Linked DNA regions of Homo sapiens: region 2 is linked to region 1. The links come from fine-mapping of genetic effects on gene expression. A gene starts in region 1. The other region holds a variant in brackets. All regions are shown on one strand. Distances are between the middles of the regions. Region 1 holds the start of RPS24 (ribosomal protein S24). Region 2 overlaps POLR3A (RNA polymerase III subunit A).

Region 1 (5,529 bases):
TCCAAATCTTTACAAGGATCTCAGCTTCAATGTCACCACCTCAGCAAGGCCTTTAACATGACCGAACGTCAGTTAAAAATAGTGCAGCCTCAGCTGGGCACGGTGGCTCACACCTGTAATCCCAACATTTTGGGAGGCCGAGGTGGGCGGATTACGAGGTCAGGAGTTCAAGACCAGGCTGACCAACATGGTGAAACCCAGTCTCTACTAAAAATACAAAAATTACCCAGGCATGATGGTGCGCACCTGTAATCCCAGCTACTCAGGAAGCTCAGGCAGAAGAGTTGCGTGAACCTGGCAGGCGGAGGTTGCAGTGAGCCAAGGAGATTGTACCACTGCACTCCAGCCTGGGCGACAGAGCTAAACTCTCTCTCTAAAAAAAAAAGTGCAGCCTCTACCTATGACATCACCAGGATTTTCCCTCACAGCTATCGTATGGGAAGGTTTATCTAACAGGATAGGATAAAGTGAGTTAAAGGAACAAACAAAACAAGCACTTCGAGGTGATGATGCTTACTTGTTTACTAGAATGTAAGCTGGGGAGCTTGCCCAGATCACTGCTGTAGTTCACTCTGCAGTGTTTGACACTCAGTATACAATCAAAAACTTTTCCTGGTTCCTGACTACCTATGGGTTTAAGCCCAGATGCAGACTTAATCCAAACTAAGTGAATTTGGTGCCAGGCTACCTTTCCAAACACATCCCCTTACTTCTCCTCTGGAAAACAATCCTTACCCCTAGCCCATCTCCAAGAACACTACTTCAGCTGCCCTTCTGAACTCAGCTCAAATGTCAGACTTCAATTTTGAACCCCCGTACTCCACCTGTGCATTTTATGAAATAACTTTTTCTCTTAATCCTTTCAGAGTTGTATCCCAGATTGCTTGGTCTTGCCCTTTTTACCACACTCACAACACAACGCTATTGAAAAAATAGGTCTTCAGGAGCTGATCAACAAATGAAAAGACACCTACTCTTGCAAGTCTATGTTTGGGTTCATTTTTCTTTGCATAATCCAGGGAATCATAAATCATGCCAAAGCCAGTTGTCTTGCCACCACCAAAATGAGTTCTGAATCCAAATACAAAGATGACATCCGGTGTGGTCTTGTACATTTTGGCTAGTTTTTCCCGAATTTCTGTCTTAGGCACTGTCGCCTTCCCGGGGTGAAGGACATCAATGACCTAAAAGGAGATATCAAGTTTAGCATTCAGTATGATAAAATACATCTTTAGAGTAAAGGACAATTAAGCAAAGATTGATGTGCCCTTCCTTACCATTTGTTTCCTCTGAAGTAGTCGGTTGGTCATGAACTTTCTAGTGCGGATAGTTACGGTGTCGTTCTGAAAACATAAACACTCTGGTTAATAAAACTACTCCAACTTTTCTTGGCCTTGCTGTGATTTTCCAAGACCTAGAATGTTGCAGTCCAATTTGTAGCCATTAGTCATGTAGCGAACTAAAGTAAATAAAACCCACTGGGCAAGGCCAAACTCACAGGATACACCTAAGGAATACATAAAATACCAGGAAAACACAATGGTTTTACACATGAATCTGTACAACTTACTTCACTAGGTTATGTGTATCTCTGGGGCAGGGTTTCTCAACCTCAGCACTACTGATATTTCCATATGGATAATTCCATATGGATATGTTGTGGGGACTGTATGTTTTAGAATAACTATAAAAATCCCAGCCCTCTAACCACTAGATGCCGGAAGCACTTCCCACCTTTCCCAGTTGTGACAATCAAAAATGTCTCCAGACTTAGCCAACTGTTCCCTTAGGAGAAAAATCACTCCGGGTTGAGAATCACTTCTCTGGGGTAAAAACTGCTGTGGCTCATATAAAGGTCACTCAATGAACTGTGTTTATCATGTCTTGCACAAATGTGCCCCAAACCTTGTACTCACTACCTACATGTAATCTATCCTTCTAGAATGGCCATAGCAGAGATCAGAGAAAACGATATTCCCTTCTGAAGGACTGAACTGCACCTTTACTTAATACCTAACAAAAAATGTGGGCATTAAGCAATTTATGCTAACAATTTTACCAAAAAGGAGGCGCAAGAGACTTTCATGGCAGCAAATAACTTCCTAGACTTTCTCCATTTTACTTTGAGAAACCACACCAAATTAAATCCACGTCAGTGGTACTCAATTCTTGAAAGTAACGGATCAAAGGTAAGGAGAAAAAAAAAAGATTGCTGGTAAAGTTAAAAACGGATGCTGGAGGAGCTAATAACGCATGACTTAGGGCAGGACTACCTTTTTATAACATCTCTTTCCAGGGCCTGTTTCCCCACTATGAAACATGAAGATCCATCCAGCTGACAAGTTTTCTAGCTTACACGTGGGAATGGTTTCACTTGCCGCAACTCGCCCAGGCGCTGCCCGCACCTTCTTCACCTCTTGTACTGCCATCACCTGCAAGCCGCCTACCTAGCCCAATGAGGAACTGCAGACGAGATGTGCCTCCCAGTGTCCATCTATCCCGCCCGCCCCCTACCCCCATCCACCGTGCTCCACGAAGTCAACAAGCGCAACAGCTCCTGCACTGCCCAGGCGCTGGAGCCCGAAGCCCAGCGTGTCCGGGTCTACAGCGCAGCCCGCCAGCCCGGACGCCCTGCCAACAGCCCCGAGCCCCTCGACAACCATCCTCTGACAGAAACGGCCAGAGAAGAGCAACCGGGCTTCGCGTGCCTATAGCTCAAGTACTGGGACCCAGGGACCACGGATGGCTCGGATACGCGGCAGATGACTGCACGGGCCCAGGGAGACTCACCATGATGGCGATCTATCTTCAGACAGCCAAGGAGGAAAAGAGAACCACGATTCGCCGGCCAATCATATCAACGCGCACGGAAGGACCCCGGGAAGAGCCGGCGTGGGGGCGTGGGCGCGCCACGAGGCTGACCGCGCCGATGCCTGATTTAGGCTGCCTACGGCCCCGCCTCACAGACTTTTGGCCACACCCCTGGAACTCTAGACTGACCAATCCAGAACCAGAACAACTCGAGCCGACTAGGTTTACGCAAGCAGGTGTTCAATTTCAGTTCAATTCATTATGTTGAATTGTACGTATTTGAATTCCGGTAAACCAAATTAGTTTAAATTGCCTTCTTCCGAGTTAGAGGTGGGTAAACTTGGAAAGCATTTTAGGATATCCTCTCTAACAGTCTCCTCGTTATATGGCTAGGGAAACTGCAGAAACCCTGACTCTAAAACCTTTGTTATTTCAAGTACTTAACATTGCCCATTCTAATTTATTATTCATGAGTATTATTTCTGTGACTTTTATGACGAATCTTTACTTTAAAAGATCTCTTTAATTTGTATTTTTCTGCAAATCTTGGTCATTATGCAAAATTAGATTTTGAAAAATATTTGGCCGGGCGCGATGGCCACGCCTGTAATCCCAGCACTTTGGGAGGGCAAGGCGGGCGGATCACCTGAGGTCAGGAGTTCGATACCAGCCTGGCCAACATGGCGAAACCACGTATCTACGAAAATAAATAAATAAATAAATACAAAATACAAAATTAGCGGGGCGTGGTGGCTCATGCCTGTAATCCCAGCTACTCGGGAGGCTGAGGCAGGAGAATCGCCAGAACCCGGGAAGCAAAGGTTGCAGTGGGCCGAGATCACACCATTGCACTCCAGCCTGGGCAACAGGAGCGAAAATCCGTCTCAGAAAAAAAAAAAAAAGAAAAGAAAAAAAAGGAAAAAAAAATTGGAAGCCAGGGGCAGTGGCTCACGCCTATAATCCCAACACTTTGGGAGGCCGAAGCAGGTAGATGACCTGAGGTCAGAAGTTCGATACCAGCCTGGGCAAAATGGCGAAACCCCGTCTCTACTACAAAAAAAAAAAAATTGGCCGGGCGTGGTGGTGCATGCCTCTAATCCCAGCTATCTGGGAGGCTGAGACAGGAGAATCGCTTGAACCCGGGAGGCGGAGGTTGCAGTGGGCCGAGATCGCACCATTGCACTCCGCCTGGGCAATAAGAGCGAAACTCCGTCTCAGAAAAAAAAAAAAAAAAAGGAAAAAAAAATTGATTGCTCCAGAAATATTTTCTTTAACGTGAAACAGACATGTAAAGAATGTAAATATATATGTTCCGGAGAAATAATAAGAAGAATTTCCCAAATGTTAGTGCAGACGAGGTGTCCAAGGTGCAGGCTTTGCGGGCAGCTTTCCTATTTTCTTTTTTTTTTTTTCCTGAGACAGAGTCTAGCTCTTGTCACCCAGGTTGGAGAGCAATGGCTTCATCGCGGCTCACTGCAACCTCGACCTCCCGGATTCAAGCGATTCTCCTGGCTCAGCTTCCAGAGTAACTAAAATTACAGGCCTGCGCCACAATGCCCAGCTAATTTTTGTATTTTTAGGAGAGACGGGGTTTCACCATGTTGGCCAGGCTGGTCTCCAACTCCTGACCGCAAGTGATCCGCCCCCGCCTCGGCCTCTCAAAGTGCTGGGATTATAGGCGTGAGCCACCGTCCCCGGCCGACTATTTTTCTTTTTTTTCGTTTTTTGTTTTTTTTTTTTTTTTTGAGACCGCATCTCGCTCTGTCACCCAGGCTGGAGTGCAGTGGCGGGATCTCGGGTCACTGCAACATCCGCCTCCCAAGTTCAAGCGATTCTTCTGCCTCAGCCTCCCGAGGTGACCAACTATCCTTATTCTTAAGAAAATAGTCAGCCGGCTGGGCACGGTGGCTCATGCCTGTAATCCCAGCACTCTGGAAGGCCGAGGCAGGCAGATCACGAGGTCAGGAGTTCAAGACCAGCCTAGCCAATATGGTGAAACCCCGTCTCTACTAAAAATACAAAAATTAGCCAGGCATGGTGGTGCGCACCTGTAGTCCCAGCTACTCGGGAGGCTGAGGCAGAAGAATATTTATTGAGTGATTGTAATGTGCCTGTTACATTCTAATTACTTTTACCTTCATTTTGCTATTTAACCTTCCCATTGACTCTAAGAAATAGGATACATATTACTCACCCATGTTATAAATGGGGAAACTAACACACAATAAGATTAAATAACTTTCCCAAGTTCACACTTTATATACGTGTATATATACACGTATGTGTATATATACACATATATCTATATCTATATCTATATATATATATATATATATTTTTTTTTTTTTTTTTTTTGAGGCAGAGTCTTGCTCTGTTGCCCAGGCTGGAGTGCAGTGGCACAATCTTGGCTCACTGCAACCTCCGCCTCCCGGATTTAAGCGATTCTCCTGCCTTAGCCTCCTGAGTTGCTGGAATTACAGGAATGCGCCACCACACCAGGCTAATTTTTGTATTTTTTAGTAGAGACGGAGTTTCACCATATTGGTCAGGCTGGTCTCAAATTCCTGACCTCATGATCTGCCCACCTCGGCCTCCCAAAGTGCTGAGATTACAGGCGTGAGCCACCGCGCCCGGCCTGCACAACTTTATTTTTTATTTTTTTTTATTTTTGAGATGGAGTTTCACTCTTGTCGCCCAGGCTGCAGTGCAATGGCATGG
Region 2 (5,000 bases), 29 kb after region 1:
TCCATGATTCAGTTCTCCAAGATTACTCAATATTTGCCTACTATGCTTTCACTGTTCTATTTTGTTTGTTTGTTTGTTTGCTCATGCTTTGAGTGGGCCATGAGTCAAGTGATGTTTGCATGCCCCCAAAACTTTATTCCACTCTTATACTTGCCTGGGTATACAATTTTAGATTGAAAATTATTTTCCCTCAGAATTTTGAAGGTACTGCTCTACTTTCTTCTTGCTTTCAGAGTTGTTGTTAACAGGTATTGTCGTTCTTATTCCCCAGTTTTTGTATTTGATTTTTTTTTGTTTTTTGAAGATAGGGTCTTGCTCTGTCACCCAGGCTGTAGTGCAGTGGTGTGATCTTGGCTCACGCAGCCTCTCGAGCAGCTGGGACTACAGGCATGTGCCACCATGCCCAACTAAGTTTTGTAGAAATGAAGTCTCACCATGTTGCCCAGGTTGGTCTTGAACTCCTGGTCTCAAGTGATCCACCTGCCTCCACCTCCCAAAGTGCTAGGATTACAGGCATTAGCTACCATGCCTGGCCCTTGAATTGTTTTTTTCATTTTAGAAACTTTCAGAATCCTCTCTGTTCTCACTGTGAAAGTTCACAACAATATACCTTTGGTGTGGGTCTTTTTTCATTCACTGTGCTAAGCACTGAGTAATTTCATTTAATCTGCAGCTGTGTGTCCTTCCATTCGGGAAATTTTATGTTATTTCTTTAATAATTTTCTCTCTTTTACTTTCTCTGTTCTTTCTTTTTGGAACTTCAGTTAATTACATATTAGAACTCCTAGATTAATTATCTAATTATCTTCTTTTCCATTTGCCATTTCTTTATTCTAGATTCACTTTATCTTTTAATACTTCTGTTGATTTTTAAAATTTTATCACTGTCATGTATTTAATTTCCAATACTATTTTTCAATATACTTATTCACAGGTAGTGTTTTTGTTTCTTTTTTTTTTTTTTTTTTTTTTTTTTGAGACAGAGTCTTGCTCAGTCGCCAGGCTGGAGTGCAGTGATGCAATCTCAGCTCGCTGCAACCTCCGCCTCCCAGGCTCAAGTGATTCTCCTGCCACAGCCTCCCGAGTAACTGGGACTACAGGTGCCTGCCACCATGCCCGGCTAATTTTTGTGTTTTTAGTAGAGACGGGGTTTCACCATGTTGGCCAGGGTGGTCTCGAACTCCTGACCTCAAGTGATCTGCCCACCTCGGCCTCCCAAAGTGCTGGGATTACAGGCGTGAGCCACTATGCCCAGGCTGTTTTGTTTTTAAAGCTTTCTTGTTTTGATCCCTGAATGTATCTTCTCTGATCACTCTGAGAGAATATTATTCATAGTTTTATTATATTTGCTTCCTGAATTTTCTGTATCCTTTTACTTTCTTTTTCCTGTGCATTTGTGTCTTTTGTCTTTCATGTTAAAATCTTTCCTCAAATATCTGGTGGTCCTTGAGGAGTAAGGACTGAAACACTGATTGGAAATGGAGCTGACTGGTTGATGGACCTCTCAGTTTTTTTATATAAAAGGAATATACAGACTTTCCCTCAGTGCTCTTGTTTACAGTTATTTCATCTGCCTGGTATTCCCAGACCCAGAGCCTCTCTGATTCCATTTCGCTGGGAGCGAACTCCCATCTCCTACAGGAATAAGGGCCTGGAGCCTTCCTTATACAGACTTTCCACTAGGTTTCCTTGTTTCCAGCACATTCATCATTTCCAGCAGTTGCAGAACCTAATGATCTCATTTCTGAGCCTTTCCAGGCCCATTAGTCCTCTCATCTACAGATACTTGTAGGTCATACCTTCCTATCCTGCTAAGCCAGAAGCCACTCATTCACTCTCTTTATTTCTACATACAGTATATTGTGGCTAGGATCAATGGTGGCACCTAGTTCCATCAAAGTTGGAGAATACTTTTTTGT[G/A]TGTGTGACACAGGGTCTTGCTCTGTTGCCCAGGCTGGAGCGCAGTGATGTGATTATGGCTCATTGCAACCTCCACCTCCCAAGTAGCTGGGACTACTGGCATGTGCCACCATGCCCGGCTAATTTTTTAAGGTTTTTGTAGAGATGAGGCTGATCACAAACATCTGGGATCAAGCGAGCCTCCTGCCTCAGCCTTCCAAAGTGCTGGGATTATAGGCGTGAGCCACTGCACCCAGCCCTCAGGCCACCCTTTAGTGTTTAATGTCACTCTGCTTTAGATAATAGTTGGAAACGGTATTGTGTTTCCCCACCAGATCGTAAGGTCTCTGAGAGAAGTCAGTTGAGTCCTAGTCATTTTGTGTAACTCCCTAATGACTGAGAAAGAAAGCCATTATTTAATTGAATTGTGATGAATTCTGTGAAGATATACACTTTTTTATACTTTAAACTATACATACATAGTTTATATATAGTACAAACTATATCTAGCAGGCATAAACTGTATTTAGTAGGTTTGCTGAGTCTCATTTATGGCCCTTTCTTCCTGCTCTACCAACTCAACAGCTAACCGTGGTTTCTCAATTGGGATCGGTGATGTCACACCTGGCCAAGGACTGCTGAAGGCCAAGTATGAGTTGCTGAATGCCGGCTACAAGAAATGTGATGAGTACATCGAAGCCCTGAACACGGGCAAGCTGCAGCAGCAGCCTGGCTGCACTGCTGAGGAGACCCTGGAGGTGAGCCCGGCCCTTTGGTTCAGGGTCGCCACTTGCCGTGCACAGTGGCTACGGTGGTGCTCTCTGGGGTTGTGCTGAGCCATGAATAGAGGTAGCAAAGGAGTGGGCAAGTCAAGGCATTGGCGTCTGTCCTGTTGGGGCCCAGGGCTCACTGTGTATGTCCTCGTCTGTCCTGTTGGGGCCCTGGGCTCACTGTGTGTGTCCTTGTTTGTTTCCTGAGGGTAGGGCCTTTCATCAGATCCTCATGTCCCTCCTAACTTTCACATCCAGGTGGTGAAAACATAGCCATCTGTTCATTCGGCCACACGAGGCTGCTCTTGTTCTGGTGGCACACTCAGGTCCCTTCTGTAACTGGTACTCGAGTGCTCCTGCCTTTTCTATTTTCAGCATCCTTCAAGTAGAAACTGACACCACAGCTCTTTGGTTTTTGGGGGTTTGGTTTTTTTTGTTTTTGTTTTTGTTTGAGACGGAGTCTCGCTTTTCATAGTTTTATGAAGCACTCCAGCCAGGCTGGAGTGCAGTGGTACGATCTTGGCTCACTGCAACGTCTGACTCCCTGGTTCAAGCAATTCTCCTGCCTCACCCTCCCAAGTAGCTGGGATTACAGGCACATGCCACCATGACCAGCTAATTTTTGTATTTTTAGTAGAGACAGGGTTTCACCATGTTGGCCAGCACGGTCTCGATCTCCTGACCTCGTGATCTGCCCACCTTGGCCTCCCAAAGTACTGGGATTACAGGTGTAAGCCACTACGCCCAGCCAGTTTTTTTGTTGTTGTTTTGTTTTAAGATGGAGTCTCACTTTGTCGCCCAGGCTGGAGTGCAGTGGTGCAATCTCATCTCACTGCAACCTCTACCTCCTGGGTGCAAGCAATTATCCCTGCCTCAACATCCTAAGTAGCTGGGATTACAGGCGCCCACCACCATGCCCAGCTAATTTTTTTTTTGCATTTTTAGTAGAGGCGGGGTTTTGCCATGTTGGCCAGCCTGGTCTCGAACTCCTGACCTCAGGTGATCCACCCACCTCGGCTTCCCAAAGTGCTGGAATTACAGGCATGAGCCACCGTGCCCAGCCTCACCACAGCTCTTTGAATGTATGGTCTTTGAAAGAGACTTGGATGCGGAAGAGGGAGAATTCATGTCTAATAGTCACATCCCCAGCCTGCTGCCCCTCATTTGAAACTATTTTAGCTAAGATCTCAACCAGCATGGGTCAGAATCAGAATCACCACCAGCCTGTGAGAACCTGAAACTCCCTCAGCAGTCTGAGTGCACCAGGCTTTCACCTGGCCGTCTTCTGCCTCACCGATAAACCCGTGGCACTGAGCTTTGACTCACCTGAGTGTGGAAGAAAGGCTCTTTAAGCATTGGGAAGTTTTCTAATGAAATACATTTTCTAAAGCAGGGAGAAACCAGAATTTTGTGAGGTATTTACCATTAGCTCATTCTTAATCTTACTGAGTCTTAGAGAGAGAGAAAAGGATATCCCTCACCGGTACCTCCTAGAAAATTACTTGAGACCTCGGCAGCAGCAATTTTTCATGGAACCAGACTTGTAACTGATTCAGCATCCTAGTTTGTAAGTTGAGGAGTAACTGTGGATGAGCTCATGAGCCGGAATATTCTTGTGAAGTCACCTCATCACATGCCTAGCTTGCAGACATTCAGATGTGTGCTTGGCAAGAAAAAGTAGAAAGACAAATTTACAAATAGTACAGGCAATTCTCTTTTACATACCACATATTATCTTATATATTTGTATGGGGTGCATGTGTGTGTCCACACAGCTATTTATATACAGATATTTTGTTGTGTAGGGTAGTATACACAAAGCCATACATTCTACCTTATGGGCCATTTAAAGGATTCTTCAAGTTTTTATTACTGTCAATTTTAGGCCAGGCTTGGTGGCTTATGCCTATAATCAAGGCAGGAAGATCCCTTGAGGCCAGGAGTTCAAGTCCAACCTGGGCAGTATAGCAAGACCCCATCTCTACAAAAAAAATTTTAAAAATTAGCCAGGCCTGGTAGGGACATATACCTGTAGTCCTAGCTACTCAGGGGTCTGGGGCAGGAGGATCACTTGAGCCCGGGAGTTTGAGGCTGCAGTGAGCTGTGATTATGCCATTGTACACCAACCTCAGCAACAGAGTGAGATCCTGTCTCCAACAAAAACAAAAAAAAGATAAACTGTTTGCCTTATACACCAATTTTAGAACCTTGTAGAAGATGTACATGTTCATATAGCCAGGGCATTTTGCTCCTCTAAGGTTCTGAAACATTTACTGATCGGAAATCGGGCATCTTGCCTCAGTATTTTCAAATTTCTTTAAATGTTAGATTG

What was found. PIP is the estimated chance that this variant, and not a neighbour inherited with it, causes the effect.
Region 2: its variant is fine-mapped to the expression of RPS24 in whole blood (INTERVAL, PIP above 0.99).

The regions. Positions count from the first base shown.
Region 1 is chr10:78,031,166-78,036,694 of GRCh38, reverse strand. It overlaps RPS24 (ribosomal protein S24), which reads right to left and starts at 2,832. Exons shown (of 6, transcript NM_033022.4): 1 at 2,791-2,832; 2 at 1,278-1,343; 3 at 975-1,184. The coding sequence starts at 2,793. RefSeq lists an enhancer at 2,503-3,032.
Region 2 is chr10:78,002,372-78,007,371 of GRCh38, reverse strand. It overlaps POLR3A (RNA polymerase III subunit A), which reads left to right. Exons shown (of 31, transcript NM_007055.4): 16 at 2,484-2,656. Among named protein-coding and RNA genes, the nearest start is that of POLR3A, 25 kb to the left of the region's middle. The variant G/A (reference allele first, on the strand shown) is at 1,920.